Linked DNA regions of Homo sapiens: regions 1 and 2 are each linked to region 3. The links come from fine-mapping of genetic effects on gene expression. A gene starts in region 3. Each other region holds a variant in brackets. All regions are shown on one strand. Distances are between the middles of the regions.

Evidence for each region. PIP is the estimated chance that this variant, and not a neighbour inherited with it, causes the effect.
Region 1: its variant is fine-mapped to the expression of PDCD7 in whole blood (TOPMed, PIP above 0.99).
Region 2: its variant is fine-mapped to the expression of PDCD7 in blood mononuclear cells (TOPMed, PIP 0.99).

The regions. Positions count from the first base shown.
Region 1 is chr15:64,962,261-64,965,104 of GRCh38, reverse strand. SPG21 (SPG21 abhydrolase domain containing, maspardin) reads left to right here. Exons shown (of 9, transcript NM_016630.7): 9 at 1,369-2,083. The coding sequence ends at 1,485. Among named protein-coding and RNA genes, the nearest start is that of SPG21, 26 kb to the left of the region's middle. The variant C/T (reference allele first, on the strand shown) is at 1,401.
Region 2 is chr15:64,838,138-64,840,981 of GRCh38, reverse strand. It overlaps LOC124903508 (a long non-coding RNA gene), which reads left to right and starts at 826. Exons shown (of 4, transcript XR_007064682.1): 1 at 826-1,128; 2 at 1,286-1,391; 3 at 1,848-1,962. The variant C/T (reference allele first, on the strand shown) is at 1,651.
Region 3 is chr15:65,132,446-65,134,945 of GRCh38, reverse strand. PDCD7 (programmed cell death 7) reads left to right here and starts at 1,138. Exons shown (of 5, transcript NM_005707.2): 1 at 1,138-2,034. The coding sequence starts at 1,165. RefSeq lists an enhancer at 853-952 and silencers at 1,243-1,452, 1,513-1,912.

The DNA of each region.
Region 1 (2,844 bases), 170 kb after region 3:
TTTTCTAAGGACAGCAGGCCTGCATTCACACACTGAGGTTACTATTGGTATGATGTGACCTTGCCCTCTGGACACAGTGAATTCCATCAGAGCAAGACACCAGACCTAAATGGGGTCAATCTGAGTCCTGTGAAGTGACTTCTTGATCTAATTTTAATGCATTAAAAGAAAACCCTACCAGGCGTAGTGGCTCATGCCTGTAATCTCAGCACTTTGCGAGGCTGAGGCAGGCAGATCACAAGGTCAGGAGGTCAAGACCAGCCTGGCCAATATGGTGAAACCGTCTCTACTAAAAATACAAAAAAAATTAGCTGGACGTGGTGGTGCACACCTGTAGTCCCAGCTACTCGGGAGGCTGAGGCAGAAGAATCACTTGAATCCTGGAGGCAGAGGTTGCAGTGAGCCGAGGTCACGCCATTGCACTCCAGCCTGGGCAACAGAACAAGACTCCGTCTCAAAAAAAAAGAAAAGAAAAGAAAGCCCTAACAAACACCATCCCTTCATACTCTAACTAAATGGATAATAGAATAGCAGTGAGGGGTGAGTGCCCTGGCAGTTTGGCAAGATGAATCAAGAGCCTTAAAAAACCAGTTATATCCTGGCCACGCATGGTGGCTCACACCTGTAATCCCAAAAACCAGTCATATCCCTTGATCCTGTCATCCCCTTATAGAAGACAGGATCCTAAACAGGAATACTTGATGCCCAGAGATATTCATCATAGCAGCACTAGTCACAGTAGCAGAAGATTGGAAGGACCTAACTCACAGCAGCAGAAGGGAAGGGTAAACATCTCATGAGCATGCACCATCTAAGATGTCTCAGGAGACTCTGCAGGGACTCAGGGAGACTGCTCAGGGAGTGAGGAACAAAGATCCCAAATGTGGTTTCAAAAAATTGTTTGACTTTTCTCTATTTAGTATGTCTTAGTCTGTAAATTTTAGAAGTATAAAACATTTGTCCACTATGGTGATGTTTTCCTACCAAACTTTTTATAGAAGGCAGTATACATTTTACTCTGTAATGCAGCCATTTAAAACAATGATTCTGGCAGGGTGCAGTGGCTCACACCTGTAATCTGGCACTTTGGGAGGCCGAGGCAGATGGATCACTTGAGGCCAGGAGTTCAAAACCAGCCTGGCCAACATGGTGAAACCCTGTCTCTACTAAAAATACAAAAATTAGCTGGGCATGGTGGCGGGCACCTGTAATCCCAGCTACTCGGGAGGCTGAGGCAGGAGAATTGGGTGAACCCGGGAGGCGGAGGTTGGAGTGAACCAAGATAGTGCCACTGCACTCCAGCCTGGGCAACAAGAGTGACACTCCAGCTCAAAAAATAAATAAAATAATGATTCTGCATTTCAACAGATACATTTGCTGCAATTCCATGGAACCAAATA[C/T]GCGGCCATTGACCCATCAATGGTCAGTGCCGAGGAGCTTGAGGTGCAGAAAGGCAGCCTTGGCATCAGCCAGGAGGAGCAGTAGTGTGTCTCTCGCTGTCAATGATGAGTTGACCCGGTGTGTTCTTGTATAGTCAGTGGCATCAGCACCCGTCAGCCAGCCTTTTCCTTCAGGTTCGTCAGGCTCACCGGTTCTCACTGTGTCTGGGAAGTAGGACTGATGGTCATCTTCATGACAGGCGGCATCTCCACTAAGCCTGTGTAACTGTTCCCTCTTTGGTTTTCTTAGCTTTTGAATTTGAAGAAGTACTTTTGAAGACTCCCATTTTAAGAACCGTGCAAATTTTGCTACCAAAAGTCTTCACCACTGTGTTCTTAAGTGAATGTTAATTTCTGAGGTTTGGGACTTTGTGGTGGTTTTTTTCTTCTTTTCTTTTCCATTCTTCTTTCTTTCTTTTTATGTTGTTTGCTGTAAATGCTGCACATCCAGATTGCATATCAGGACATTGGTTATTTTATGCTTTCTTGGATATAACCATGATCAGAGTGCCATGGCCACTACCCCACTGTTTGCTCTCCTGCAAATCAACTGCTTTTAATTTACACTTAAACAAATTGTTTTGAGTGTTAGCTACTGCCTTTCTAGATATTAGTCATTTGGAATAAAAATTCAATTTAACTGAGTCGCTTTTGTGATTATTGTTGCTGCCCAACTGGGCTACACAGGCCTAGGACTTTCTGAGAAGTAGGTCATGGTTGCCAATTCTGTGTGACTTTGGGTAAGTTACTTAATCTCCCTGAAGTACAGTTTGCACATCATAAAATAACCCTAAGCTATCATTTATTGATCTGCTACTGTGTGCCAGGTACTTTTCTCGTCTTCTTTCCCCTGAGTGAAAATGCTTAAACCCACATGAAGTAGAGAAAATGGCATAATGAATGATGTTCCCATCATCCAGCTTCAAAAATTATCAACTCTCAGACAGTCTTGTTCATCTTTTCTTTTTTTTTTTTTTGAGACAGAGTTTCGCTCTTGTTGCCCAGGCTGGAGTGCAATGACGTGATCTCGGCTCACCGCAACCTCCGCCTCCCGGGTTCAAGCAATTCTTCTGCCTCAGCCTCCCAAGTAGCTGAGATTACAGGTATGCACCACCACGCCCGGCTAATTTTGTATTTTTAGTAGAGATGGGGTTTCTCCATGTTGGTCAGGCTAGTCTCGAGCTCCTGACCTCAGGTGATCTGCCCACATCAGCCTCCCAAAGTGCTGGGATTACAGGCATGAGCCACCATGCCCGGACTTGTTCATCTTTTAACCTACCCACGTTTCTTCCACACATGCTCCTATCACTAAATTATTTTAAAGCCATTTCTGGTGCTGTGTCATTTCATCTGTAAATATTTCTATGTGTACCTTTAAGATACAGCCTTAATACCATTATCACAC
Region 2 (2,844 bases), 290 kb after region 3:
GCTCTCCTGGTCAACCCCGTCCCATGCCAAGGAAGGGAAAATTAAGTGCATGTGAGATCAATGGTGACCTTCTTCGGCTCTGGCTGCCATAGCAGCGGCTGTGCCAGCGACCAAGCTCCCCTTTCACGGCCTTCTGCCAGCCCTCAGGCTCCCAGGCTACTTCCAGCCCTGTACGGAAAAGGGCAGCCTGGGGCTCCCAGGCCAAGGGGGAAGGAGATGCAGGTACACTTCTCCCTCATGCCTAGGCCTGGGATCCTTTAGCTAAAGGAATGAAGAAAATTGAGGCTGATATTATCACACTGGTCAAGAAAAAGAAAGAATAGAAAAGAAAGAGAGAGGAAGGAGAGAGAGAGGAAGGAGGGAGGGAAGGAAGGAAAAAAGGAAAGAAAGAAAAAGAAAAGAAAGAGAAATGAAGGAAGGAAAGAAAGAAAAGAAACAAGGAAGGAGAGAGGAAGGAAGGACGGAGGGAAGGAAGGAAAGAAAAGAAAGAGCTGGGAGCGGTGGCTCACACCTGTAATCCCAGCACTTTGGGAGGCTGAGGCAGGCTGATCACCTGAGGTCGGGAGTTCAGACCAACCTGACCAACGTGGAGAAACCCCGTCTCTACTAAAAATAGAAAATTAGCCAGGCGAGGTGGTGCATCCCTGTAATCCCAGCTACTTGAGCGGCTGAGGCAGGAGAATCGCTTGAGCCCGAAAGGCGGAGGTTGCAGTGAGCTGAGATCACGCCATTGCACTCCAGTCTGGGCAACAGGAGTGAAACTCTGTCAAAAAAAAAAAGGGAGAGAGAGAGAAGGGAGGGAGGGAGGGACGCAAGGAGGGAAAAGAGAAAGAAAGAGAAAGAAAGAAAGGAAAGAAAAAGAGAGAAAGAAAGGAAGGAAGGAAAGATGAAGGAAAATTGAGGCTGAGGATCTGAGATAGTCTGTATATGTAGCAACCTCTTTCGGCCACCACATGGTTTTACTCCCTCAATCTGCAGAGCTGTGCAGCATTCTACTCCAATGATCAAGGACTCAGAAGATCTTGTATCTGGAAACTCATGCTCCACCTGCAGCAGACCAGAGACCCTGGGGAAATTCATTTTGTTACACAGAAGCAGCCCTTTGTAGGGAGAGAGCAGTGAGGACAGGTTGGTTTGACATCCAAATAGTTCTGTCATTTTGGGGAATGAGCCATTGAGAACTACTCTGGCCTCAGTTTCCCCATCTAGCTCAAAAAACCCTCTGGTTTTGCCTCTATACTGTGTGCTTTCATTCAACACATATTTTATTTTCTTTGTCTGTCAGTCCCTACAATAGTGGCTGGGAGATAATGGCAGAGCTCAGGATCCCTGTCCTCTACTGGGGAGAAAGGCATGTAAGAAGATGAGAATGCCGAGTGTTAAATGAGAAGGTAAATGCACAGAGAAGGGGCACCAGAACCAGGACAAAGGGGTAGGACAGGCATTCTAGGGAGAGGGGACAGCGTGTAATCAATGGCATGGAGGCATGAACAGCACAGCATGTGTATGTAGGGCGGCCAGTCTGGAAAAGCAGACAGCTTTGTGCAGAGAGGGCCTTGTAGGTTGTGTGGAGGAGACCACATTTTAACCTCAGGGCAATGGGAAGTCATTGAAGGTTTGGGAGGTGTGGGGGTCTGTTTTGTGTGTGTA[C/T]CATTTAATCATTCTGCAAAGTGTACTGAGTGCCCCTTAAGTGGGGGTGCTTTCTAAGGCATCATCCTACAATTATTCACTGAAAAGAATGTAAGGCCCCCTGTTATCTACTCAGTATTCTAAACTCTCCCTATATCTCATTTAATCCTCACGAAAGTATCCATGAAATAGATACAATTGTTATCCTCATTGAACAGATCAGGAACCTGAGGCTTGAAGAAGTTAGATGACCTGGTTAAGGCCACTTGACTGGATTCAAACCCTGCCTGACTCCACATGACTCCTTTGGGCAGCATCGTGTGACCACACCACGTAAGATCTAGGTCCTGCCTTGGAGAGCTGATGAACCAAACCAGCAGGAAGGTAGACAAGTCCTGATAAGGACACTTAAAAAAATAATAATATGGGTCTTGCTCCGTCACTCAGGTTGGAGTGCAGTGGTGCAATCACAGCTCAGTGCAGTCTCAACCTCCCAGGCTCAAGTAATCCTCCCACCTTGGCCTCCCAAAGTGCTGGGATTATAGACCTCAGACATGGTACCCAGCCCTGAGAAGGACTTTGATGAAAAAGTACATGGTGTGTGGTGAGAGTGGCTCCCAGAGGAGGGGTTGAGTTGTATTCCAGCAGGGTTAGTTGGATAGGGGCGGAGGGAAAGTTCAGGACAAGAGAACATCTCACAAAAGTGAGAACTTGTAGAATATCCTGACTTGTTAGGTGAATTGTAGGCAGTCTTTATGTGGTCATATGTGTTGGGGGCAGGATGGGGAAGGCGAATTCGGTCAGATGCCGCCAACGAGGCAGCAGGAGCCAGAGCACTAAAGGCCTTGAGTGCTGACCTAAGGGATTGAAATTCCTCCTGCAAGTAGCAGGGGGCTACTGAAGCTTGAAGTGAGGTATGACACAATCTCATTTTCATCTTACAAGCTCATTTTCATGACTGCAATATGGGCAAGAAAGACAGGGTAGTCCATTGAGTAGATTATTCCAGAAATCCAAGTTGGATGTAATGCAACTTGCTGAACCACTGAACCAGAGCAGTGGTTACGAAGATGTGGAGGATAGATTCAAGAGCTAGAAAAGAGATAGAGGGATCAGGACTTGGAGTGGTTTCTTTATTCATTGATTCGTCCATTCAAAAAATACCTGTTGTGGCTGGGTGTGGTGGCTCACACCTATAATCCCAGCAATTTGGGA
Region 3 (2,500 bases):
CACCAAGAATAACTGGAACCTGGGATGCAGTGGTTGCAGTGAGTGGAGAGTGCGTCATTGCACTCCAGCCTGGGTGACAGAGGGACTCTGTCTCAAAAAAAGTGGGGGGTGCACGGGACTTGGTTGACCTGGATGGCATGCAAGGGGTGGGGAGGGACCAAGGAGGTGCTGGGTCTATGGGACTTGCTCCTATGTATCCATCAGTGATCTGGTTGGCGCCATGGAGGCTGGGGCGAAGGCGGAGGGGGGGTGGGGGGTAGCGGGGAGCTAGGTTGTAAATTGACAGTTGTCCCCAGGCAATCCCCTGGTATGGGAAAGTTCCAGAGGTCCCTGGTTTAAGCTTCGGTCCTTGGAACTAATAAGCGAACACATAATTAGATAAGCTTACAGTGTAGAGAGTGTCTGGTGGAGAGAAGGTAAAGGTTAATTGGATTTTTTTTTTTGACAGGTGTCATTCTGTCGCCCAGGGTGGAGTGCAGTGGCGTTATCGTGGCTCATTGCAGTCTTTACCTCCCAGGGCTCAGGTGATCCTCCCACCTCAGCCTCCCCAATGGCTGGGACTACAGGCCGATCTCGCCTGCCTCGGCCTCCCAAAGTGCTGGGATTACAGACGTGAGCCACAGCACCCACCCTATAATTGCATTCCTAAAGAGCTAAATAGGAGGTGGGGTGAAAGGAGAAAAGTAAAAATAATTCATTTTTCTAAGAAAATGGGTAGTTGGTCACACTCCTATTTACTAGGGCCTTTGCACATGTTCTCATCTGCACTGTGCTTCCCTCTCTTTTTCTATTTAACTATTTATCTTCCAGATCTCAGCTGCAGCCGCAGTTTCTTAGGATAACCTTCTCCAACTTCTCGAAGATACTCACCATGATTAATTGATTAGTGTGTTATACTAGGCAGATAGTTCCACGAAGAGAAGCTCTGTATCTCTCAGTCTCACTGTATGCGGAGTGGGTAGCTCTGCACCTAGGATGCTCAATAAGAACGGTATTTATGAACTGAACGACAGAAGGTTGAACGACTGCCCACTTATGCACTGAGCCTTCCGGAGGGACGAGTCTACAGGGGTCGCGCGTCGTAACGACGTCACTTCCGTCGGAAGGTTCTCATGAGGAGCCACTCAGATTCCTGTCACTTCTCAAAGCATCTCCGTCGTGAACATGGCCCTGCCACCATTCTTCGGCCAGGGTCGCCCAGGCCCACCGCCCCCGCAGCCGCCGCCTCCTGCTCCTTTCGGCTGTCCGCCACCGCCGCTGCCCTCCCCGGCTTTCCCGCCGCCTCTCCCCCAGCGGCCCGGCCCTTTTCCGGGGGCCTCCGCCCCCTTCCTTCAGCCTCCGCTGGCTCTGCAGCCCCGAGCCTCCGCGGAGGCCTCCCGCGGCGGAGGCGGCGCTGGCGCCTTCTACCCGGTGCCACCACCGCCGCTGCCTCCTCCGCCGCCCCAGTGTCGGCCCTTCCCGGGGACCGACGCCGGCGAGCGGCCGCGGCCACCGCCTCCCGGCCCGGGGCCGCCCTGGAGCCCGCGGTGGCCTGAGGCGCCGCCGCCGCCGGCCGACGTGCTCGGGGATGCGGCCCTCCAACGCCTGCGCGACCGGCAGTGGCTGGAGGCGGTGTTCGGGACCCCGCGGCGGGCAGGCTGTCCGGTGCCCCAGCGCACGCATGCCGGGCCCAGCCTTGGCGAAGTGCGCGCGCGATTGCTCCGGGCTCTGCGCCTGGTGCGGCGGCTGCGCGGCCTGAGCCAGGCCCTGCGCGAGGCCGAAGCCGACGGCGCGGCCTGGGTCCTGCTGTACTCCCAGACCGCGCCGCTGCGCGCGGAACTGGCCGAGCGGCTACAGCCGTTGACCCAGGCTGCCTATGTGGGCGAGGCGCGGAGGAGGCTGGAGAGGGTCCGGCGCCGCCGGCTGCGGCTTCGCGAGAGGGCCCGGGAACGCGAGGCCGAGCGGGAGGCAGAGGCCGCGCGGGCAGTGGAACGCGAGCAGGAGATTGACCGCTGGAGGGTGAAGTGTGTGCAGGAGGTGGAGGAGAAGAAGCGGGTGAGAGCAGCGGCCGCTCATGGGGGTAGGAGTGGTGGTGGTTGGAACCTGGAGCAGCAGGAGGCTTTAAACTTCCATTTCCCAGGGCTAAGCCTCTGTTTTACGCGCAAAATGAAGCGATAGCTAACCTTCCCAGCTCATACCACCATGTTAATTTTGTGTTAATGATGTGTGGTACACAAAAGTTCCAGGTGCACTGTAAAATCCTGTAAACACAAAGTATAGGATTACACGGTGGCACTGCACGAATGACAGGTCTCCCCTATCCTGCTCCAACATTGTCCACTTACTCTCAAAACCAGTAAGTGTCTAGTTCCTTGTGTCTTGTACTGCCCTAGGTGGTTTTAAGAATACAAAATACAGGCCGGGCGCGGTGGCCCACGCCTGTAATCCCAGCACTTTGGGAGGCGGAGGCGGGTGGATCACGAGGTCAGGAGTTCAAGACCAGCCTGGCCAAGATGGTGAA